Linked DNA regions of Homo sapiens: region 1 is linked to region 2. The links come from fine-mapping of genetic effects on gene expression. A gene starts in region 2. The other region holds a variant in brackets. All regions are shown on one strand. Distances are from middle to middle. Region 1 overlaps DNAJB14 (DnaJ heat shock protein family (Hsp40) member B14). Region 2 holds the start of DNAJB14 (DnaJ heat shock protein family (Hsp40) member B14).

Region 1 (12,331 bases), 22 kb after region 2:
GAAAAGTCTGTTTTGTTTCCTGCTAAAGCTTATGGAAGCTGTATTGATGTTGTGCTGATATTACTTTGCTAGGGAAACTAAAGATTAAGGATTTTGAACAGAGATTAATTCAAGAATTCTCATGGAGAGTGAATCATAATATAGTGAACTAACTCAAGTGAAGAGTAGTTAAAATTAGTTAGGTTAAGTCTTTCTCATTTGTCCTTTCTTGTCTGTTTCTCTTTTAATTTTATTTCTTTTTTCACCTTTTTACCCCATTCTCAACTTTTTATTTACCATAATTTGTAATTGAAGTGTATTTTGAGATACAGGTTTTATTTATTAAGGAAAGTGATTTGTTACCATATCTTAATTTTAAAATCAAATACCCATATATTTATATTTTGCATTTGTCCCTATATATTTAAATGCTAAAGCTTGATTGTAACATTTTATTTGAGAGTGATTACAATGAGAAAAAACGATTCTCTGACTGAGTGTGGTGGCTCACGCCTGTAATCCTAGCACTTTGGGAGGCCAAGGCGGGCAGATCCCCTGAGGTCAGGAGTTCAAGACCAGCCTGGCCAACATGGCAAAACCTCATTTCTACTAAAAATAGAAAAAGTAGCCGGGCGTGGTGATAGGCACCTGTAATCCCAGCTACTCGGGAGGCTGAGGCTGAGGAATCACTTGAACTCAAGAGGCAGAGGTTGCAGTGAGCCAAGATCACACCACTGCACTCCAGCCTGGGCGACAGAGCAAGACACCTTCTCAAACAAACAAACAAACAAACAAAAAAGGATTCCTTAATCATGGTAAAGCCATGGTAGAGTATTTGATTAGTATGAATGGTAGTGAAGCACTTTGAGAATATAAATAATGCTGCTAACCATTTTTATACTTATAGTACTGTGTCAGAGGTAGCTGAATAAGTGAAAGAAGTGAATAAGTAAGAGACTTACTTTTGAATTTATTTTGTAAAAAACGTTTATTAGTAAGCAGTGTGCTTGAAACACGTTTCTGGAAACCACATCCTAAAACAAATTGTATTTGCTTATAGGATTTAATTTATGTTGGGAGAACATATTCTCAATGAAGGATTCAAAGAAAGTTAAATGTATTTTATATATATATATTTAAGAATATAGAATCACCTATATATTTGAAAGTTTACCAAAAAACTATGGTTGAAAGTTTTGAAAAAGAAGACTCTCCTAAATCTGGTGTTATTTTAAAAAGTCTGTTTCTTCATTTCCTCTACCCTAGCCTTGAAAGAAAAAGAAGAGTAGTCCAAGGTGTGGTAGAAATAAGGAAGGAAGAGCATTGATGCCTCTTTGTTCTGGTATTGATTATATATATATGTGGGGTGGGGTTGGTTTTGTGTGTATGTGGGTGGTTGTGTGTGTGGTTCTCCAAAGCCCAGAGGAACTGGCTGTAGGCAAGGAGACACCTTGAGAATGGAAGAATGAAAGATGATGCTGAGTGTAGATACACTCTGTATGTGGCCAGAGACATACAGACATACAGGTGGAGACATAAAAGGTGGAAGGAATTTTTCTGTTTTCTCTGTCAAATTGGAGATGAGGCTGTCTTCTGAGAGTTAGAAGAAAAGAGATGAGGTTGAAAGCTTAAGAGAGTGGTAAAAGTATGGAATATTTGCAGAGGAGAAAAGCAAAGGGAATGAAGTATTGCTGATTTAGTTTTAAGGCCCAGCCACATTTGGGACCATGAATTCTTTAAGAGTGGAAGAAATAGCTTAGTAGTATACCTGTATTAGAGATTGGTCCTCTGGTCAATAATCTCATTATACCTTTTTAATTAAATGTAATTTTTTTTTCTTTTGGGGACTAAATATGATTGGAACAGTCTCTAAGAGAATCCCCAAGTTTTCAAAATACTTTAGTCTGTACTTTATGTGAGTTTCTTAGCTGAATATACCTTTTCTCTTATATTAGCCTTCATAAGTGTTGCTTTAGTGAGGGTACAGATCACCAGCAAACACTTACATGATGTATGTTTTTGTTTTTTCTTTTACCTATACACAGGGGATTTTTCTGAAGAAAGCCATGTTATCTTGTTGGTTAGCACGATTATGCAAACAAGTTGCTCAGTGACAATTTGGCTCAATGGGGAGAAGTCTTGCAATAATACTGCATCCATTGCATAAGTAAGAGCTAGCTTACAGTAAGACTGAAGAGAAAGTGTGTAACTTTGTAAACTAATATTCTGTTAAACTTGGCGATTTGTTTTTTTTGAGTTGAAGTGTATTGAAAAATAATTGAGACAAAGTTGTCATGGATCTTATTTGAAATTTTTAACATACCATTGAAAAACTTTAAAACTTTACAAGATCAGTGTGAAATTATTAACTGGAGTATCATTGTATTTATCAATTAGAAACACTGTACAACTGTTAATTATGGGGATTTGAATTTAAGATTTGATTTAAGCTTCCGTTCTTTCAGAAGAAATCATTTCGCTAAACTTATAAAATAAGTAATTCTTTTTCTCAGGAATAAATAAATGTTTCCTTAAACACTAGTTAAATTTGGAGTATATTTAAATAATTAGCTATATAGCACACATGAAAAAAAGAGAATCGAAAAATGACCTTCCTCTCCCACCAACTATGCTTCCATGCACATAAGAGAAGATATAAAGTCTGGACCAGGCAGAGTTTTCCCATTGTTGAGCTCCACACAGATCCTTTTGGCCTTGTTGTACATTATTTCCTTCCAAGATAGGTAATGGGTTACTCCTTTTTAATTTCTTTTAATTCTTCAGTGAGGCAGGAGAAGGTTTTACTCTTTTAGAAAGCAGCAGATTGTAAAAAGTGTGACAAACACATGTAGCTGATGAAAAGGAGCATGATGAACAACAGTATGAATGAAAATAATTATATGAATGATAATTTCTCATTCAGGTGTGAAAACTTAGGTGAATGGGTATATTTGGAGCATTACTTCAAATACATAGTCTTCAGGCTGTCCATTGGTGATGATGACTGTAACTTCTGGCTTCTCAAGAATTTCTTCTCTAATATATGATGAAAAATTTAGTGCAGAGGAGATATGGTGGAGCTGGATACAGCTAAGAGTTAGTGAAATAACTGTTTTTCATGTCTGGCCCCCCCTTTTTTTTTTGTTTGTCTGTGGCAATTCTTAGCTTTATGACCCTATCTAGAGCACTGCAAATTTTCACCTACTTTGTCTACAGTATCCAGCTGTCTTTTTAAGTTGACCAGGCTTTTGTGCTCAGTAATTATAAACAAGACAATTTAGAGGCTTAATCTGGAACATAATTAAACATCCTACACACTCAAACCAAGTAGTAATGGCTTTAGGATTGTTCAGTGTTTAATTTACCTTTTATTTTTTGCATTCAGGTAGTGTCTGCCATATTCGTACCTCTCCACCTTGTCTCACAGTCTGTTTCACTTCTATTAACTGCTTCTCTTCTATTCCAAATGATTTTTAGTACTAACTACATTTTCATGACAGCATTCATCACATTTGATCTGAACGTGACTTTTTAGATCCTCACCATTTCTGCTCTCAAATTGAAAGTCATTTGTCCATCCATCCAACATATATGGTGAACAAAACATAATCCCTGCCTTCAAAGAATCTGTGATCTAGAAGTGTTATCAGACAAGTAAAGAGGCAACTGTAGTACACTTTGGTAATTGTTGGGATAAGGCTAAGTTCAGAGGATGTGGGGAGGATATAAGAGGGGCAGCAAACCTAGTCCTGAGGAATTTGGATTCTTAGGAAAAGGAAGAGCTAAGTCAGGGTCCGGAGAAGTTGTAGAAACTAGCTAACCAAGAAGAGAGGCAGAGAAGGTGTGCTCAGCACCAAAAGCAATTGCAAAGATCTAGGAGGTAAGAGAGTCAGCTTCAATACTGATGGTAAGAAAGAAATAGGAAGATGATAGGTCACTTTGAAGTCTGAAGGGTATCCTTTTTTCTGTATTCCAGTTCTGAGACAGCAAGATTTTCAAGTCAGATAAACAGATTTGAATTCTTAACTGTGAGGCCTTCCTTTATTACTTATTTGAAATAGAAGGCCTGCCCTTCCTTTCTCTGTTTCTATTAGCTTCTTTATTTTTCTCCAGATATTTATCACCATATGATGTACATTATATTTTACTTATATATTTGTTTATTGCTTGTTTTTCTCCCAATTGTAAATTTAATGTGATTTTGACTGTTTTATTCACCACTGTAGCATCTGAAATTGTGCCTAACAGAAAGTAAATGGTTAGTAAATTTTTGTTGAAGAAATAAGTCCTTATTCTCATCTGTTACTTGGTTATGTGAATTTAGGCAATTTACTTAACCATTCAAAGATTGGTTTCCTTATTGGTTAAATAGGAATAATATCTACCAAATGAGGAGTAAATGAGATAATTTGTGTAAAATAATCAGTATAATAAAATTCTACAATTCTTTATGTGAAATCTTTGTGACCAAATGCAATTTGGAATTCAGAATTCTTCATATTTTAGAAAGGTACTAATATAGTCGGCTCTCCACATCTATGGGTTCTGCATCTGTGGATTTAACCAACTTTGAATTGAAAGTATTTGGTGAAAAATAACAATACAACAATAAAAAATAATACAAATTAAACAACCAATATAGTGTAACAACCATTTACGTAGCATTTACATTGTCTTAGGTACTATTTATAACCTAGAGATTATTTAAAGTACATGGGAAGATGTGTAAAGGTTGTATGTAAATACTGTACCATTTTATATCAGGGATTTGAGCATCTGTAGATTTTGGTATTCAAGGAGGGAGGATCCTGGAACTAATCCCCTGTGGATACCAAGGGATGACAGTGTATTTTATATTATACATCTTAGAGTCTAGGGCAGCAGTCCATAACAAATAGTAACATTTCTACAGCAAAACATACAGGTATTCACACTTAAATGGGATAAATGAAGATTCTGTAGTAGCTTCACATCTTTTCGGTCAGATTTTTGCCTAGAGGCAAAATCTACAGTTGAATTCAGTTTTTTATGCAGTCAAATTAGTTATAGAATAACTTTGATTTTTCAGAGCTTTATGGATATTGGAACATTGATATGGGATGGTGGACCTGTACCTAACACACAGTAGGTATTTTATAAATGCCCCCCATTTCCTTTTTTTCTATCACATAGCTTCTAAACATTTCTAGGAGAATGAGTCTCTACACAGGTGGGATCATTCTCTTTTTTTGTTTACAGATATATGTCAAATGCCTAGAACACTGTCTGGGCATAGTTAGTATTCAATAAATATTATTGACTAAATAAAGGAAATGTCATGTTTTTGGAATAAAATTGATGTATGTTAATGTTTTTAAGTATCTAAAGTAGAAAAATCCAATTTTAATTTCTGTAAATTTGTACAATTTTATATTACTTTCCCTTTTTACCCCCAAGTTCATATAACAAATGATAGATGCCTTCATTATATAAAGAAAGCTAAGGCTCATTTACTTCAAAAATATTTACTGAGATCCTTTTGTGTGCCAAGCACTGTGATAACTAATAGGTGTAATAGTAAAAAAAAAAAAAAAAAA[AT/T]CTTGTCTCTTTTCTTTGAAAACTTTGAGTCAGTCTTTGCAGTTCTTTTGCTGCCAGTGTCCACTTATACCCTAGATCATTTTGCCTGTCACTAACTCTGTCATCAAGCCACCTGCACATGGAACACATCTAAAGTTGCAAAGTACTCTCCAAAAATTTTGAAAATGTACTGTGGCTTTTGTGAAAGTAAATTACTAGGTTGTGGAAGAAGGTTGGCATCCACATGTACGTAATGTTCTCTGTTCCATTCAGAGTATTTATTTTCTAATCCTAATATACTTTAAAGATTTCAGGCTTAAATCTCTTAAATCTTTAAGGTACAAACTGTATGTATATAATCTTTAGAAATGTGCTTATCACAATGAAAATCAGGGATAACATTTTTTGAGTCACGTGTTATATTTTATCATGAGATGTTATCTTTTTCAGAGAGTGATACAGATAAATTATCTTTGGCATAACGGGGATGGCCGGGTGCAGTGGTTTATGCCTATAATCCCAGCACTTTGGAAGGCTGAGATGGGAGGATCATTTGAGGCCCGAATTTCAAGACTAGCCTCAGCCCCAACATAACAAGACCCCATCTATATCAAAAATAAATAAATATTGACATTTAAACCATAGAATACTGCTGTTGTTTTGCGTGTACTAAACTGTTGCTTTGATAGTTGGTTAGATCTACATTATGCAAGAACAAAATTTTTGGAATGTAATGCATGTTCATTCTTAGCTGTGACATACTTTTGAGGAGTTTTGGAATTTATTTATCCACTTACAAGTACTAAAAAATTATTATTATTGTCTCATTTTAGTTACAATATATGCTCTGACTTTCATCCACAATTATTATGGGCTTTGTTTACTTCTCTGTAGTTGTGATACATTACACTAAGGACATTTTCATGGTTTACTCTTCTTAGATTCGGGAAGAGGTTGGAGGAATGGTCTGTGGTCGAAAAAGAGAATGAAGCAGACTAATCCTTAAAGGGATAAGCCTTCATTAGATTTTGAGAAAGAGTCCACAGATAGTTCTTTATAGTATTCTAATAAATTAAAAATTAGAGATATTACATGACCGTCTTCCTTGAAATTTACATTATAACACACTCTCTTGTTCACAGCATAAACAAATGTAAAAATTACTATGAAGTACTTGGAGTTACGAAAGATGCTGGTGATGAAGATTTGAAAAAAGCTTATAGAAAGCTTGCTTTGAAGTTTCATCCAGACAAAAACCATGCACCTGGAGCAACAGATGCTTTTAAAAGTAAAGTAAACCTTTTAAAGCAATTTTACTAAGCTGTCTTTAGAATTCACTTTACGGCGTTTCAGAATATTAAGTTCTGCTTTTGGACTGGTGCATTTAGAGACCAGCACAAGCAAGAGTCTGGAAAATCCTTTAAAACTTCAGTATTAACTGGTTATACCCGAAGGCAAACAAATGCAGTTTGGCTTCACAAAAGCAACATTCCAGTTCTGATACAGTCTCAAGTAACTTTTCTAGGCACATATGCATGCTTTCTTGTTTACCAGGAACAAATAGGGTGATGATTATGCATGAGCTTCTAGCGTATTGTCATCTGGTTCTAAATGAACTAAAAGCAAAATATAGTTTTTTTGAGTTTTTAAGGTACAAGAGACTGTGTGGAATTTGGATATTTAAGAAATAGCTCCCCAGTGTTCTTTTATTTCTATTAAACTTTGCCCAGTTTTTTCATTTTATATATGTAGTTTTAGCTAATGTTATTTTTTTCTTTTTAAAAATTAATATCTTTCCTCTTGCCTACTATTTATTTTTTTATTTTCCATCCCAATATTCTTTAAATTTTTTGCCAATTTAATAAATGTCAGAGAAGTGATTTTGTAGTTTTATATTTTGTTAAATACAATTTATTTGTAATAATTAATTTCTAATTCATAGTTAAATGCCTAAATTTGTGATTGTTCATTCTTGTGAATTTGGCATTCATAAACCCAGTGTATAATGTTTACAGTACAATGGTGGGGTCTTAGAATAACTGGAAGTAGATACTCATTTTAAACATCTTCCAAAAAGGTAGAAGAAGCAATTGGTCCTTCATGAAAATACCGTTAAGATTGTTTCCAAAACAGTTTTATTTCTTGAAGGAAGTTGCCAAGGAAAATACATTTGGGAATTAATAATATATTCCAATAAAAGCCACTGCCAAAGTGGTGCTGGTGAAAGTAAAATACCACTGTGACAGCGAGAGCTGTCTCAGTTTGTTTCCTTAAAGTAAAAGTGGCATGTTGAAAGTACAGGAAAAGCTTTACTCCAAAACACTAACTTGCAAATTACATTTCCGTCAGTTCATTACCTGAAGAATGTATCCAGAAAATAGTGCCATTATTTTATTTCCTCCAAATACACACCTTTATTAAACAAAGATAAAGCTTTCATTTTAAAAAAACACAGATAATAGCACTTAGGTTAATTTATAATTCAATAGTACAGAAAGTTGGGAAATTTCTGATGGAATTGTCAAATACAATAAATATTTGTTTAATTTGTTTTATAGCTTGAGCCTAATGTATGCAGTCACAGAGTTACCAGAAAAAGTAACTGAAATCTTTAAATAGCTAATTTATTATCATATATTCCCCCAAAAGCTAAAAGTGAGTTTAGATTTATGAGTTCCACAAATTTAATTTAAAATTTTTTGAGTTTTAAAAATGTTTAAAATATTTTGGCAGTGGGTTATTTGTATGTTTGTGATCTGCTAAGTGATTTCAATGTTAATTCTTTATTAATGCTAAGAACATTAAACTATTTCTTCCACTTCTATATTGAAGTCATGTTAGCATCTTTGAATAACACTAAATGTATGTAACATATTTCTGCAGCCTGTGTTGCGTTTTGAATAGGTTAGCAACATAGATGTCACCTAAGGAAGCCCGCTAGACACTCAGTGGGGTTTTACAAAACTGGTTACACTTTCATGTGGTACATTTCAGAGTTTAGTGCTCTGCTTTGCAAAACTAGAAACTTAATACTTACCAACATGCCGGGAAGTGATTTATATCTGAGGAGAGGATACATTGTTCAATACACAAAGAGATTACCTGTAAATCAGAATGCCAGTTTATTAGTCCCAAAGAGGATCAGAATAGGGAATTGGCTGATGAGCCCATTTTTCACTGAGTGGAAACTGCATAGAAAACTCAAGTTGTAATCCACACACGCTTGGCGAGTAACAGTAGTTAATTAGAAAATATTACAGATGGCATCATCACACAGAAATGGCAGGTTTCATTCATTTAGCACACAGGATCTTCTCATTATCTTCTGTATCATCTTATTTTATTTTTAACCAATCAGTCTGTTTTTGGAATACTAAGCCATTTATCTCTGAGCAAAGACAATACTATTGTCTTTTTTATAAAAGCTAAAGTATGGATTGATTGCTCTGTAATTACTAAAACACTTTTTACAGAAAATGGAAACTACTTGCTTTCATTTCCTTCAAGAATAGAAAAAGAAGAGGTAATTAGTAATTAAATGAAGAGATGTTTCATTTGTGTGTTTTGTAAAGCTTTAAAAATAAAAAAGATTGCTCTCAAGGAGAATGGACTAAATGAACTCATATGTTCATATAGCTATTTTGTCCTTCCAGTTAGGATTATATGTTTCCCAAGAGGGGAATATTTTATTTACATGTAAAGTGACTTGCAAAATACATGTAAACATATTTTAAAAAAATATTTTAATGAAATAAGTCCCTTTCCTTTTTTCTGATGTAGATGTCTTTAAAACATACCCATCTACATTATCTTCAAAGATTCCCAAGTATTTCAGAGACTATTTGAATAATACCTGTGTCTGTTGACATACACATGAATGTAATAATGGGGCATGGATTAGTTGTTTATGTGTTTGCTTGACAAGTAGTAGTGGAATGGGAGTTGTTGCTTGTATTAGTTCTGGTAGTTCAATATGAACATCTAGAGTATATCTCTAAGAACAAAGAGTTTAATTCTGCCATTTGGGCTAGTTCTTGTAGAGAAATACAGTGAGAGAATCTGAGATATCCTCTTCCCCAAATAATTTATAATTCATAAGGGGGAAATAAACCTTACACAGAACTTTTGCGATATAGTAATGCCTCACATTTAACAAACATAGTTTTTCATTCCCATTTTTACATTTAATGCTTATTTAAAAATCTCATCAAATAGTTAAGAGACCAGTGTCATTCTTATTTCAAAAATAAAAAAATTGAGACTCAGATTTACCCAGGATCTCACAGAAGACCAACTATATTTAAATACCAAAACAGACTACAGAAGTCCAAAGAAAAGTTAGAAAGATGAAGACTCATTGTGAGCAGAGTAATTGGGAAAGCCTTCATAATAGTTAGAATTAAGGTTAAAATTAAGAGTTTTCTCAAGAGTTAGCATGATTTCTATGGTTAAAGAGAGGGGTTGGCAAAACCTTGGCAGCGAAAATGAGGTGGGTGATCTAAAATTCCATGAGGACTTCCACTTTCAGGAAGATAGGACAGATATACTTTTCCCCATTTCTCCCAATGAGTACAACTGAAAACCCCAAACATTAATATATAAAATAAAGAAAACAAACATAGGAAGACTCTGAAAGATGGAGAGAAAAAAGGCAGACCAACTAGGTAGGGACCTCAGGATTCAAAGAACAACATATTAGTTAGTTGCTTAGGTTTTTGTTTGTTTGTTTGTTTGTTTGTTTTTTAAGATGGAGTCTTGCTCTGTCACCCAGGCTGGAATGCAGTGGCGCAGTCTCAGCTCACCGCAACCTCTGCCTCTCGGGTTCAAGCAATTCTCTGCCTCAGCCTTCCAAGTAGCTGGGATTACAGGCGCCTGCCACCAATCCCAGTTAATTATTTTGTATTTTTAGTAGAGATGGGGTTTCACCATCTTGGCCAGGCTGGTCTTGAACTCCTGACCTCGTGATCCACCTACCTCAGCCTCCCAAAGTGCTGGGATTACCAGTGTGAGCCACCATGCCTGGCCTAGGTATTTTTTTACCCCATATATATCCCAGATTAGGTGCTGGAGGAGTAGGCAACCCCAAAACACCAATACATATAGACAGAAAAGCCCCAAGAAAAGCCTGCCTTATCTAGCCAAATGATCAGGAAAGGGATAGCCTAGAAAGACAGAAAAACAGTAGCCACTCTACTGCAAACACCACAGGAAAAATTGTGGCCCCACCCTGACCCACACTAGCAAAGTCTGAGTAGAGAGCCTATACTACCACCCCCTCTGTGCTGTAATGAGATGCTACCACCCTCTCTATGCTGTAATGAGATGCTCTAAGCTCCCTGCTGGGATGGTAACAGAGAAGGTTAACTAGATAGCTTAGACTTTCATTTATGCTGGGTAGTAAGAAAGGCTTCCCTCATGATGTCAGTGGAGATCATGTGGACTTTCACCTCCACCTGGCAATAAAAGGGTGCTCATTCTCCCTGCTAGGGTAGTATCATAGGTAGCCTAATGCACAGTCAGGACTTCAGTCACCACCCACAGGTAACAAAGTCATTTCCTTATGGTATCAGGGAAGTTAAATGGAGAACAGTAATGAAGTATCTCTTCTCCTCCTAGCCAGGGAGACGTAAGTGGAGGCCTGATGTTCCCATAAGGGAACTTACGTATCTATCCAATGGGACCCCTCCCCTTGAGTGTCTTCAGAGGCCAAGGGAAAAACCCTGGACTTCCACTCCCACTTAGGAACAATGAGATGGTATTCCCCCTTCTCTGCCAAAGTGGAGTCAGAGGAATACAATAAAAACAAAATATGTAAATAAGATCCAGACTCTCATAAGATAATACCCAAATTACGAAGTTTCAGTTGAAAATTACTTGTCAGTCTAAGAACCAGGAATATCTCAAACTCTATAAATGTTTATGATCATATAAATGTTTCAATGAGCAACTACAAATAAACTTAAAAGAATCTCTGCAAAGCAATAGAAAGTCTGAGCAAAGCTATTAAAAGTATAAAGAACAAAATAGAAATTTTACAACTCAAAAATAAACAAAAACTATCAATGACTAGAATAAACAGCAGAATGGACAGATAGAGGAAATAATTGGTGAGCTAGAAAATAGAAAAATAGATGTTTTCCAATTTGAACATAGAAAATAAGCTAAGATGAAAAAGGACATAGCCTCAGAGACAGGTGGGACTATAGCAAAAGATCTAATATTTAGGTGATTGGTGTCCTAGAAGAAAGGGAGAAAGAGGGCAGAGCTGAAAAGGTACTCAGAAAATTAAAGGTTGAAAACTTCCCAAATTTGGCAAAAGATAGAAGCCTATAGATTCCAGTTGAATGAACCCCAAACTGATAAACCCAAAGAAAGCCACACCAAGACACATCGTTGTCAAACTTTTGAAAACTAAAGACAAAGGCTTGAAAACAGCAAAAGAGAAATGACGCCTTACCTATAGGGGGAAAAGCAATTTAAATGACAGCAAATTTCACATCAGAAACCACAGAGGCCAGAAAGAAGTGGCACATTTTTCAAGTGCTGAAGGAAAACGACTGTCAACCTAGAATCCTATACTCAGCAAAAATATCTTTCAGGAATGAAGGGGAAATCAAGACATTTTTCAGATGAAGGAAAAATGGGAAAACTTGTCAAGAGCAAATACAACCTAAGAGAATAGCTAAAGGAAGTTCTTTAAACAAAAGGACACAATAAAGGAAAGAATCTTGAAATATCAAGAGGAGAGAAAGAACATGGTACTCTGGTATTATTTGTGGTGCCCCAAAGTTCATAT
Region 2 (12,331 bases):
GCCTCCCAAAGTGCTGGGATTACAGGTGTGAGCCACCATGCCCAGCATAGAGTATATGTTTCAAAATGTTCGTCACATTGAAACTATTCAATTATGTTAAAAAATGTAATACACTAAAACACTGCAAATGAGATTGAGACACTACTGTCCCCAAGCAGCTGGAGATGTACATAGGTGTTAATAACCTACTAGTTGGAAGGATAGTACTGTGTGTACAGTACCATTACTTTAACCTCATCATTTGCAACTGATTGCATTGCATGGACCCTCTAACTGCCTGAAAATCATGTCAGAGTTACTCCATCGACATTTGCCGAACATTTGTCATGTGGCAAAATACTTACTGTAGAAAAGTTGACACATAATAGCTCTGAGGTTTCACTAAATGAGCTTTACACACCAGGCTACAGGTACAACCCATTGATGTGTAGTCTCCAAAAAATATGGTTTATGATTTGATTAAAGAATACTGCCTCGCCAGAAGCTCCCTAAGTATAGACAAAAAGGGTTTCGTGACCAGTGAGGTGACTTGGCTTCACCGTTTGCTGTCACAGAACTATTCCGTGGAGGATTTCATAAGTAGTGAGGGAGAGGTGGAAGACCCGGCTGAAAATAAAGTGGGAGCAGCGGGTCGTGATCTGTTGGTGGCTGGGGACTCGCCTAGACGGAAGAAACACGGAATCTCTACTAAGGCTGTGGAAGGCGTCAGGGCAAACCTCAGACTCCTCTCACTGGACGCGTTCGCGCCACCTGTCAGACGGGAGGAGCCGCCAGGGATTGAGAGGGTAGGGAAGGGGTGTCCGGGGCCCCGGAAAGCGGCTGCGGGTCGCAGGTCTCCGCCCGAGAGGCGCTGGGAATGGGGCTGGGAGTGGTGGGGGCGGCGTGCTACATACCGAGGAGACTTCACGTGGTCTCTAGAGCCCTGCTAGGGGACCCGGGACGCTACCGCGCGCCCCTCCCCTGAGGTCTCAGCTCCTCCTCCCAGGCACGTGATCGCAGCCGGCTGGTAACTGCGCTCCTGCAGCGTAGCTCGCTCTGTTTCTTCCCTCCCGCCGCGGTGCCCTTCTTCTCCCCCGTTCCCATCCCTCCGCCTTCCCCCGCCTCTCCCCCCACGCCCCAATCGCGGCTTGAGATTAGAAGCGCCCGCCCCTCCACCCTTTTCTTCGCTTGCTCATTGGCTGAAGTCTCAAGGACGCGTCCCGAGGGCGGGTGGCAGCCATTGGTGGGATGAGCAATCCGAGTTCCCGGATGAGGGAACATTCTGCAGTATAAAGGGAGCAGGGAAGGCGGGAGACAGCGCAGTTTGAATCGCGGTGCGACGAAGGAGTAGGTGGTGGGATCTCACCGTGGGTCCGATTAGCCTTTTCTCTGCCTTGCTTGCTTGAGCTTCAGCGGAATTCGAAATGGTAAACTTCGCAGAGACGCTCGATGACTCCGCGGGTTTTTGCCGGCGAGAGAAAAACCCGTTACACAGAGGGATGGGGGTGAAGTGGCGACGGTTGGGAACGCGCGGAGACAGGATTTAGAAGAGTGGGGGGAGGTGTTTTGTCGGCTGCTAGCGGAGCAGCCTCGGATCTCGCGGCGGGCGGCGACGGTTGGGTGGCGCGCGCAGCGCCGCTGGGGGCCGGCGGGCGGAGGCGCGCGGCCGTGGCGAGCGCGCGGCGGGGGGCGAACGGGCGGGGTCGCCCCTGCGGCGCGCCGCGGGCCGGAGACCCCGGCAGGGTGCGGGGACGCGCTCGCGGCGGGACGCGCCGCGGTGGGGGATGGGCGCGCCGCCTTGGTAATTCTATATTCTCCGTTCCTCCTCCGCTCGCGGGCGTGTGCGCGCCGCAGGCTGGCGGTAAGGCTGGAAAGGACTCCGGAAAGGCCAAGACAAAGGCGGTTTCCCGCTCGCAGAGAGCCGGCTTGCAGGTCAGTAGTTGTTCGTGCAGTCTGGGAGTCATGATGTTTTTCTTTGCATTTCCTTTTTTGTTATTCATCGCTCTCGATGGGCGTTTTGTGTATGCGTGGGTGATGCGGTGTCGCGACTTGGGCTGCCCATACGATAAATATGGGGGGGAGGAATCACGTGTTTCGATGTCGGGACGCGTTGCTGCGCCCGTGCCCCTTGCTTTGGCGCGCATATAATTTCCCCATCTCTAGTTCTCATTTTTGTGCATTTATGTTTGTGTATGCTTAAAATTTAAGTTCCCAGTGGGCCGTATTCATCGACACCTAAAATCTAGGACGACCAGTCATGGACGTGTGGGCGCGACTGCCGCTGTGTACAGCGCAGCCATCCTGGAGTACCTCACCGCAGAGGTAAATGGGTGAACGCCTATAATCCGGAGAAGGTTTGGGGGGCGGGGAGGCGGCAAGAGGGAAGGAGGAAAGTGATGCAAGAAAACTCCCAGGCCCTGAACGCGGCGAGAGGCCTAAGAGAACGCTAGAGGGAGCTGGTGTTCAACAAGGATCCTACTGAGCTTGAGTTCTCTGCTCTTGGAATTAAAATTGCGTGCCCCCTGTATATCTTGCCAGTCAGATAGTGAGGAACGATTCCAGTTGGTAGATCTGCGTTTGTGAGGGTTTTATTCTGTTCTCTGAATCTTGGCCAAAGGAAAGTTGGAAGGCAACTGACAGATTCTGCCTTTTAGGTACTTGAACTGGCAGGAAATGCATCAAAAGACTTAAAGGTAAAGCGTATTACCCCTCGTCACTTGCAACTTGCTATTCGTGGAGATGAAGAATTGGATTCTCTCATCAAGGCTACAATTGCTGGTGGTGGTATGTTAACTTCTAACATTTTAAAAAATTTCTTCAGAGGAAGGAATTTTTTGCTGCTTTTAATTAGTTTTTCCAGGAGAGGAAATTTAAGTATATTTTCAATGATGGAAGTATGGTTGTATCATGAAATTTGATTTATATGTATAACTCAATGAATTTTTACTTCATACTTGAGCTGCATGTTTTTAAAGATACCTTTCAAGTTGAACAGTATACACTTTCTTGGTTTCAAATACTGTGATTTTTTAAAAAATCTTAAGTAGAATTAATTCCTGTCACTCTCCTAGGTGTCATTCCACACATCCACAAATCTCTGATTGGGAAGAAAGGACAACAGAAGACTGTCTAAAGGATGCCTGGATTCCTTGTTATCTCAGGACTCTAAATACTCTAACAGCTGTCCAGTGTTGGTGATTCCAGTGGACTGTATCTCTGTGAAAAACACAATTTTGCCTTTTTGTAATTCTATTTGAGCAAGTTGGAAGTTTAATTAGCTTTCCAACCAACCAAATTTCTGCATTCGAGTCTTAACCATATTTAAGTGTTACTGTGGCTTCAAAGAAGCTATTGATTCTGAAGTAGTGGGTTTTGATTGAGTTGACTGTTTTTAAAAAACTGTTTGGATTTTAATTGTGATGCAGAAGTTATAGTAACAAACATTTGGTTTTGTACAGACATTATTTCCACTCTGGTGGATAAGTTCAATAAAGGTCATATCCCAAACTAGTTGTGTATTAAATTTGCTTGGTTGTAATAGGAACTTGTTTTGAGTATCTCATCTAGCAGCAATAACTAAGCACATTTCTTTGTGACTGAACTGTCAAATCTGTAGATCAACAAAGTGAGATAGCCCAAGTATATTTTTTTAATGTTATATGAGCTACTAAAGTTTTAATTTAAAAAGTTGGCAGGAGCTGGAGTGGGATTGTCAGTTTCTTAGGCTAAGTGTGACCATTTCAGTTTGTACATTGGCTTCGCTTGCTGTGTGACAGCACTGCACTAGTATGCTGTTAGCATGGTGGACTTGGGGAGGGAGAGAATAGGTAGGAATGTCCTGTATATCCACAGAATGAACTCCGAATTTAAACTTTAAAGATAATAGTGCTACGTGCCAGGCCCTGCTTTGAAGTCTGAAGTTGTTAAGTACTCAGTAACATCATTGGGGATATACTATCTCCATTTTATCGAAGAGAAGCAGGGTTTCTTATTTGAAAGTACCGAGTTATGGTAGTTAGCAGAATTAACAGCTTGGCTCACAGCATTATGTAAAAATTGTTACCTTGTGGTTGGGTTGAGCAGGTCATTTTGACAGTTTGTCATGTTTTTTTTTAAAAAATTTGCACATAGCAAACATTCCCCCCACCCCCACCGCGAAGACTAACAAGACACGGTACTTCCAAGTGGTAATGTTATCCAAATGGGACGGAAAAGGTGAAATCAAAAGTTTGCTTTCGTTAGGGCAGCCCCTGAGGGGCTGATTCCTGCCTTGTTTTGGCTACACAGGATTAAGGTCGATCTGCACCACTCGTTGCAAGCTACAAATTAAACTGCTTTGTACTTTGGATAGCCAGACATCCGGGTCAGAAAAAATGTAGCTGAAATAAGGCTGCCATACAAGCCCTAAGATTAGGTTCAAACGACGCTCTAACGTGTCCCGGAAGTGCTGAGACTGGACTGACACCTTGGTCCTCACCTGACCGCATCCTCCCTCGCTTGAGGGGCCCAGAGGCGGAACCTCCAAGTCCTGGCAATTTTACTGAAAACGAGTGTCCCCTTCCCGGACCCTGTCCTCCTGGCCTGAGCTGCGAGGGCCTCGCCTGGAGGTCACAGGGCACGGCGCTACCAATGCCGGCAATCGGGTCCCGGGCGGAACCCCTCCCCGCGATGGGCAGCCCGGCTGCTATCGTCCGCCTCCCGGGCAGGTCCGCTTCGAGCCTGCTGGCGCCGTGCGCGGACCACCGAGTCAGCTCGGACGCCCCGGCCCAGGAGGTTGGTCCTGGGCCGGGACGGATGCGGATCGCGCCCTAGGGGCCCGCGGGGGGCGGGGAGGCCGCCGTGAGGAGGCGGAGCTGCGAGGCCCGCCCGTCCGCCCGGGCCGTCGCAGCCGCTGCCGCGGTCCCCTGCGCTCCTCCCCGCTGCCGCCGCACGCCCCCAGCCGGTCCCGCCTCGCCTCCTCCGCGGCGGCGGCTTCCGCCCTTCTTAGCTGCGCTGCCGGAGGAAACGGAAGAAGGAGCAAGCTATGGAGGGGAACAGGGATGAGGCTGAGAAATGTGTCGAGATCGCCCGGGAGGCCCTGAACGCCGGCAACCGCGAGAAGGCCCAGCGCTTCCTGCAGAAGGCCGAGAAGCTCTACCCACTGCCCTCGGCCCGCGGTGAGACCTCAGCGTCCCTTCTCTTCCTGCCCAATCCCCAGACCACCGCGTAGCCCGCCCCTGCCCCCACCTCGGCCCCTCCTGGAGGCCTGCGGGGCCCCCGGCCTGTCTGAGCCAGCCCCAGCCCCAGGCCCGGTGGGGAGCATCCCGACACACCCCCGCCCTGGCCCCAGCCCCGGCTCCGGGCTGGGGCTCGGGGAATGCTGCGCGAGGTTCCTCTGCACCCGCCTGCCCGCCGGCTCCGCGTTCCGCTGTCCTAAATGTCCGGGTTTCATTCTCCCTGGAGGAGACTTGTCTGGTCCCGTCTTACCACAGTGAGGCTTTATTTGTATCTGTGTTGTTTATGTGGCCCCCTCCCTCCCCATTCTCAGTCCTACATAAGGCCTAGGCCCCTATCGAAGTGAGAGGAATGGTGTACTCTAGTGGCTAATCTCAGATTCCATGTTTCTGAGATCTGTAGAAAACTGTTCCCAAAGCAAACATCGAATACCTGAGATGACATTGCTTTTCCCTGGGAGAGAGTTCCTTTAAAAGAGAAGAGCACACTTTCGGCAAGAATGGTCAAGAGTCAGTAATGATTGCTGAAGAGTATCTGATTTGATAACACCATGATTATCGACGAACCAAATCTCTGAGGAATATGGTACTGGGTTTCCTTTAGTTGAAGTCAGCTTATTTATTTTCCTACTCGATAGGCTTCGGAGTAATAATAGCCAACATTTATTGAGCACAAAGTGCCAATAGTTGTGCCCAACATTTTGCATGGATTATTTCATTTATTCCTCAGAACAATTCTGTGTAGAGGTGCAGGATTCATTTGACCAGGTTTACCCACGTGGAAACAGACTTTCTGATAATTAATGAATGAATTAGCGAATGAATGAAAGTATCTTACCCAAGGTCACACAACAATTAGTAGCAAAGTCAGAATAGTAGCTGAACTTTCAGACTCGAAAAGGCCTTTAACCGCTACACTGTTGCCTTGCCATTAGTATTTCCAGGTTAAGAAGAAAGTTATCGATAGATTCAATTAATTGTAGAAAATTATTAATGAAAATATGGGGCCACTTGTTTTGTTGTCTCTTAAATTTTTTTCTCTACGTCGTTGAAGCCCTGTGCTCTTTGCTTTTCTCTCTATCCTTTCCATTACATTGCCTTCTAACACTATACCCATGAGGACAGGAAAATAAAATGAAAGAAAAGAGTTAATAATTTTTTAAGTTGTGGTTTAAAAACCTGCCAAATTTACGGTCTTAACTATTTTTAAGTGTGCAGTCCATTAGTGAAGTATATTGACATTGTTGTGCAAGGACTCTTCAGAACTTTTTCATCTTACAACACAACTGTGTACTAATCAGACAGCTCCCTACCGCCCCGTCTCCTAAGACCCTGGCAACTACCATTCTACTTTGTGTTTCTGTGAATTTAACTACTTTAGTTACCTCAGATAGGTAGATTCATGCAGTATCTTTTTGTGACTGTCTTACTTCACTTAGCATAATGTTCCCAAGTTTCATTTATGTTGTAACGTGAAGAATTCCTCTTTAAAAAAATACTGATTAGGCTGGGCGCGGTGGCTCACGCCTGTTATCCCAGCACTTTGGGAGGCCGAGGCGGGCGGATCATTTGAGGTGAGGAGTTCGAGACCAGCCTGGCCAACATGATGAAACGCCATCTCTACTAAAAATACAAAAAAATTAGCCAGGCGTGGTGGTGCATGCCTGTAATCCCAGCTACTAGGGGATGCTGAGGCAGGAGAATCGCTTGAACTCGGGAGATGGAGGTTACAGTGAGTCGAGATGGCAACACTGCACTCCAGCCTGGGCGACACAGCGAGACTCCATCTCAAAAAAACAAAAAAAAAAAGACCAAAAAAAAGCTACAGTAAAAAAACTGAATAATATTCCATTGTATATATACACCACATTTTGTTAATCCATTCATCTGTCTATGGACATTTGGGTTCCTTTCACCTCTTGGCTATTATGAATAATGCTGCTATGAACAAGGATATGCAAAGAGCCTGCTTTCAATTATTTTGGATACCAAGAAGTGGGATTGTAGGATCATACAGTAATTCTATTTTTAATTTTTGAGGAACCACAATACAGTTTCTGTAGCGCCTGCACCATTTTACTTTCCCACGAACAGTACATAGGGTTTCAGTTTCTCACCATCCTTGCCAACACCTATTTTCTGTTTTTGTTGGTTTTGATAGTACCCATCCTTGAGTGGGAGGTGATATCTCATTGTGGCTTTGATTTGCATTTCTCTGATGATTAGTGATGTTGAGCATCTTTTCATATGCTTATTGGCTAGTTTTATAATATCCCATTTTTGGAGAAAATGTCTGTTCAAGTCCTTTGCCCATTTTTAAATCACATTACTTGTTTTTTTTTTGTTGAGTTGTAGGAGTTCCTTATTTATTCTGGATATTAACCCCTTATCAGATATGTGATTTGCAGATGTTTTCTCCTATTTATATGTTGCCTTTTCATCACTTTGTTGATGGTGCTATTTGATGCACATAAGTTTTTAAGTTTGTTGTAGTGCCATTTTTCTATTTTTGCTTTGTTTTTTTGTGCTTTTGCTGTCATATTCAAGAAATCATTGCCAGGAGTTAATTATTTTTGAATCCTCCCCTACTGTTGAATATGATTTCATTTAGTCATTATCTAGTCCTAGAGGGACAGTTTTAACATTAAGTGAGTAGGCAGTCTAGACAGAATAACTTGGCTTTTGAAGTCTGACTCCACCTACTAGCTTGTAACCTTATTTTTGAGCAGGGTAGAGAACCTCTCTAGCCTTTAGCTTTTTCGTCTGTAAAATGGAGACAATGTACTGATCTCATAGTGCTGTTGTGAGGATTAAATGGGTTAATACAGGTAAAGCATTTAACAGTAAGCACTCAATTAATTTTGGTGTCATCCCCATTTTACAAGTGTGAAGCTCTGAGAATTCTTAAAACCCACCCAAATGTACACACTATCATGCTTCTGTCATGCAAACAATTTGAATAAATCTCCTAAAAGATATTATAAGATACCAAAGCACAACACAGTTTGTTGCTCTTAAGGACATGAATGTTGGAAAAATTAAGAAATGTAAGGGTGAAAGTTGGTAGTACAAATGTAAGGCAGTATGTGATTACCAAATAAAGTGATAGGGGATAACTGTGTAGTCCAAAAACCTTAGTTCAGATGCAGATGTTTTCTCTGACTCCTTTTTCACCAGTGACAAATTACTTAACTCCTCTGAGCCTTCTTTAGTTATATGTAAAGTGAAGATGTCATCACAGGATTTATGTGAGCTGAAATAAAGTTATATGCCAGTACTCAGAGAAGTGTATTTTATATAGAACATTCTAGAAGATGTTTATTGGTACAATTTAAGAATTCAGGAGAGAGAAAGATCTAGGACATTTGTGTGAGATCCTGATAAAATATTTCATATAGAAGGAAGTCGAAGCTATTGGTTACAATTAGATTTTAAAATTTTAGCCCTGAATTTCACTTATACTAGTCCACCACCAAATTCTTATAACTCAGAAAGTTGACTGAATGTTCGTCTGGATATGCTTAAACTAAGAGAGGCAAAAGAAAAGATCACATTTTGATTTCCATTATTCTTACATGGTAAAACATGAGACTAAATTCCTGCTAGATTCCAGGATTTTTGTCCTCTTAAAATTTTATTTTTGCCAGGTAGGAAGTCTGATACATAAGACACTTTCAGAAATTGGCAAGAGTTTTTCTTGACAAAAAACTTAATCCCCAAATGGATCTAGGATATTGTTTCTTTCCATGTTTTTAGTTGAGAATATTATTTTACAGTTTACTTATTGCAGTGGACTTCTAAGTGAATTCAGTTGTACAACTTTCAAATATTTTAAAGTATTGATATATATGAATAGCTACCACATAGAAAATATAAATATTCTAGAAAAAATGTCAGTAAGCAGAACTCAGTAACTGTAGTTTCTGAATAAACTGTACATTTATTGAGTTATTGATATGTTCTGGATTTTCAGAGAGGGGTACAATCTGTTTTAATGCTTTGCATTGCAATTTCATAATAATTGGGAAATAGTTTGTAGATTTTTTTTTTTAAGAGAAAAGCATTTTTATTGTTTTCAGGAACACTGTAGTAATTTGAATCAATTGGTGGCTTACAGCTTCAAAAAAGGCCATTCTTCATCTACTGTAATGAACGGATAAGTATGATAATCCAAATTATGTATTGAATAGTATATAATTTGCAGCATCTATCTGCACAATAGCAATTTAAACAGTCCTTTTTCTTCCTAATTTTTTGCTACATTATTTTAAAATTTATATCTAATAAAAAATACAAAGTTCTGTCTCTTTTTGTCTTACTTAAAATGGTTTAAAAAGTAGCTTTTAAAATTGTCATTATACATCTGGAGTATTATCCAACATATTCTTTTTAAGATAATTTCAGTCTTTTGTGTTTCTGACTTAATTGAAATTTAGTGACAAGTACAAATTATACATTCAAAACAATTATTTCTATAGCACCAACTGAAGTGTTACAAAAATGATTTCCAAATTTCAGCTAGTAGCCAAATTATTTCAGATATTACAGTTGAAGAAAGAATACTGATTCAGGGTTTGAATCTTAATTTAATAATGATGTGACCTTGGATATATAGCTTAATCTTTCCGAACCTCAATTTCCTCATCTATAAAATGGAGTTTGATTTATTCAACAAATTTTTACTGAATATACATTTTTCTGTCCCAGACAATATTCTAAGAACTGGGAATTCAGTGGATAGTAAGACAGAGTCCTTGTCCTCATGGAGCTTACCTTCTAGGGGAAACATGAAGTATCTATCTGGTATATGACACAATAATTCCATTTCTGTCATTACCTCTTCCTTTCCTGAGCCTCAGCTTTCTCATTTGTAATCTTCGCAGGCTTATCGTGAGGATATTTTATTATCTTAAGTGCTGTAAGCATGTCATGTATTATTTCTATAGGAAAAAACTTGAATAGTACCTTGGAGTTGATAGTATGTTTGTCTCTTCTGTCATTTGTTAAAGTAATTATTTGAGCATAAGATAATTGCTTTAAATTAGGAGTAATATTAATTTGGATTCAACTACTCATTCCATGCTTAGTTAACATTTAGTTCTTCTGCCTTGCTGACTTCATCCCTTACATTGCCTGTGTATATAGCTGTCTCTCTCCTACATTTAAAATACCTTAGCGGTCAGGAACTATTTTAATCTTAATTATCTTTTTTACTCCCATGATGCCTAACAGTATTTTACATATATTTGTGACATCTATGGGCCTGGATTTTCTGGAATGATAGCTGTTTATTTAATTTTACTCTCTTCAATAAAGATAATTTGTTAAATAAATAACTAAATGAAAATATTATAGCCATAAGGCCTTCTATATTAATATATTCACAAATGAAGCTTTTCTATAATCAGCCCAAGTGTTCCAAAAAAAAAATATATATATATATAGGGATTGTCTCTGTAGCAAAAATTTGGAAAGCGTATAAATGTCCATTAGTGGAAACTGATTAAATTCATTGCATTCATAAATTATGCACCTATTAAAAATGATGACATGGACCTGTGTTTATTGCTATAAGGTGATATCTCTAATATGTCAACAATTGAAGAAAATTAAGCTAAAAACAGGTAGATTATTATATTTTTTTAATTTAATAATGTCTAAAAAGCTAGACAGCTAGCTAACTAGAGTAACCAAAAGGCTATAGTGATTTTTTGGGGGGGATTTGGGGGAGGGTTGGAAGGGGATTTATAAGTGATTTTTACTTTGTTATTTTATTTATTTATTTATTTTTGAGACAGTGTCTCGTTCTGTCGCCCAGGCTGGAGTGCAGTGGCACAATCTCAGCTCACCGCAACCTCCGCCTCCTGGGTTCAAGCGATTATCTTGCCTCAGCCTCCGAGTAGCTAGGACTACAGGCGTGTGTCACGACACCAGCTTATTTTTGTGTTTTTAGTAGAGACGGGGTTTCACCATGTTGACCAGGCTGGTTTCAAACTCCTGACCTCAAGTGATCCACCTGCCTCAGCCTCCCAAAGTGCTGGGATTACAAGCATGAGCCACCACGCCTGGCCTGTTATGTTTTTTAATGAGCTGAACATACATGTTTGTATAATCACACAAATAAAAGCTATTTGTATTTTGTGAAAAAGAAAAAATCTATTTGTTTTTCAAATCATGTGTTCTGATATTCAATTCAGCTAATGGTGGACATTATATAGGAGTGCAACAGAAACTTAAGAATAAAAATAGATCTCAGTTCTTCCTTTTTGGATTATCAACATAAATATTTTAAATTCTATATTAACTTTTTCATTGGTCTTTAATATGGAATATACTAAATTACATGCAGATTATGTTAAAACTCCTAGTAGAGCAGTACGTCTGGAAGGTAAATGCATAAAATAAGATTGGATAAAATTTTTCATAAAAGTGAATGTTCTCTGGTTTATAAGTACTATCCCAATTAATGTTTGTAACACTGCGCATTATTGTAAAAGAGATCCCATGTGATAGCTAAGACATTTAATAAATCCAAAAGATCCAATGTGTTCTAAATTCTCATGGTAGTTGAACTGAGTCATCTTCTTAGGCATCAGTTCCAGTGATTATTAGTACTGACAACTTTGCTGATTCCATTTTTAAGATGATTAAGCTAGATTTTGAGGCCCAGAAGTAATACAGCTTGTCCACATTTTCACTTGATGGAGCCAAAGACTGTGTAGTATGAGCTCATGTATGCACACAGCTACTGTTAGGCAGAAGCCCTGTGCATGAAATTCCAGAAAAATCTTCATTATCATAGTAACTGCCAAAAATCTGTAACAACTATATGATTCTGCTTTAGCAATATCCAAAATCTAGGTGTTAACATGGAAAATGTCCAGAGGAACCATGGGAGAACATGTTTGTGCTAAAAATGAAAGGAGGAACACACAGATAACTTCTAATTAGCATGCAGTGGGTCTTCGTGGCCACGTTTATTTATTTTGTTTTATTTTATTTCATTTAAAAAAATTTTTTGAGATGGAGTCTCGCTCTGTTGCCCAGGCCGGAATGCAATGGTACAATCCTGGCTCACTGCAACCTCCATCTCCCGGGTTCAAGCAGTTCTCCTGCCTTAGCCTCCCAAGTAGCTGGGA

What was found. PIP is the estimated chance that this variant, and not a neighbour inherited with it, causes the effect. A credible set is the group of variants that fine-mapping cannot tell apart.
Region 1: its variant is the best candidate, but not a certain one, in a credible set for the expression of DNAJB14 in whole blood (INTERVAL, PIP 0.80).

Annotation. Positions count from the first base shown.
Region 1 is chr4:99,917,532-99,929,862 of GRCh38, reverse strand. DNAJB14 (DnaJ heat shock protein family (Hsp40) member B14) reads left to right here. Exons shown (of 8, transcript NM_001031723.4): 3 at 6,678-6,823. Among named protein-coding and RNA genes, the nearest start is that of DNAJB14, 23 kb to the left of the region's middle. The variant AT/T (reference allele first, on the strand shown) is at 5,556.
Region 2 is chr4:99,939,243-99,951,573 of GRCh38, reverse strand. DNAJB14 (DnaJ heat shock protein family (Hsp40) member B14) reads left to right here and starts at 4,956. Exons shown (of 8, transcript NM_001031723.4): 1 at 4,956-5,135. The coding sequence starts at 5,003. It overlaps H2AZ1 (H2A.Z variant histone 1), which reads left to right and starts at 1,299. Exons shown (of 5, transcript NM_002106.4): 1 at 1,299-1,406; 2 at 1,834-1,911; 3 at 2,188-2,301; 4 at 2,634-2,763; 5 at 3,051-3,486. The coding sequence starts at 1,404. The coding sequence ends at 3,112. It overlaps H2AZ1-DT (H2AZ1 divergent transcript), which reads right to left and starts at 1,080. Exons shown (of 4, transcript NR_125923.1): 1 at 894-1,080. RefSeq lists silencers at 709-918, 959-1,008, 1,669-1,718, 1,799-1,888, 4,693-5,352 and enhancers at 830-1,434, 1,379-1,468, 2,509-2,558, 2,040-2,645, 5,523-5,572.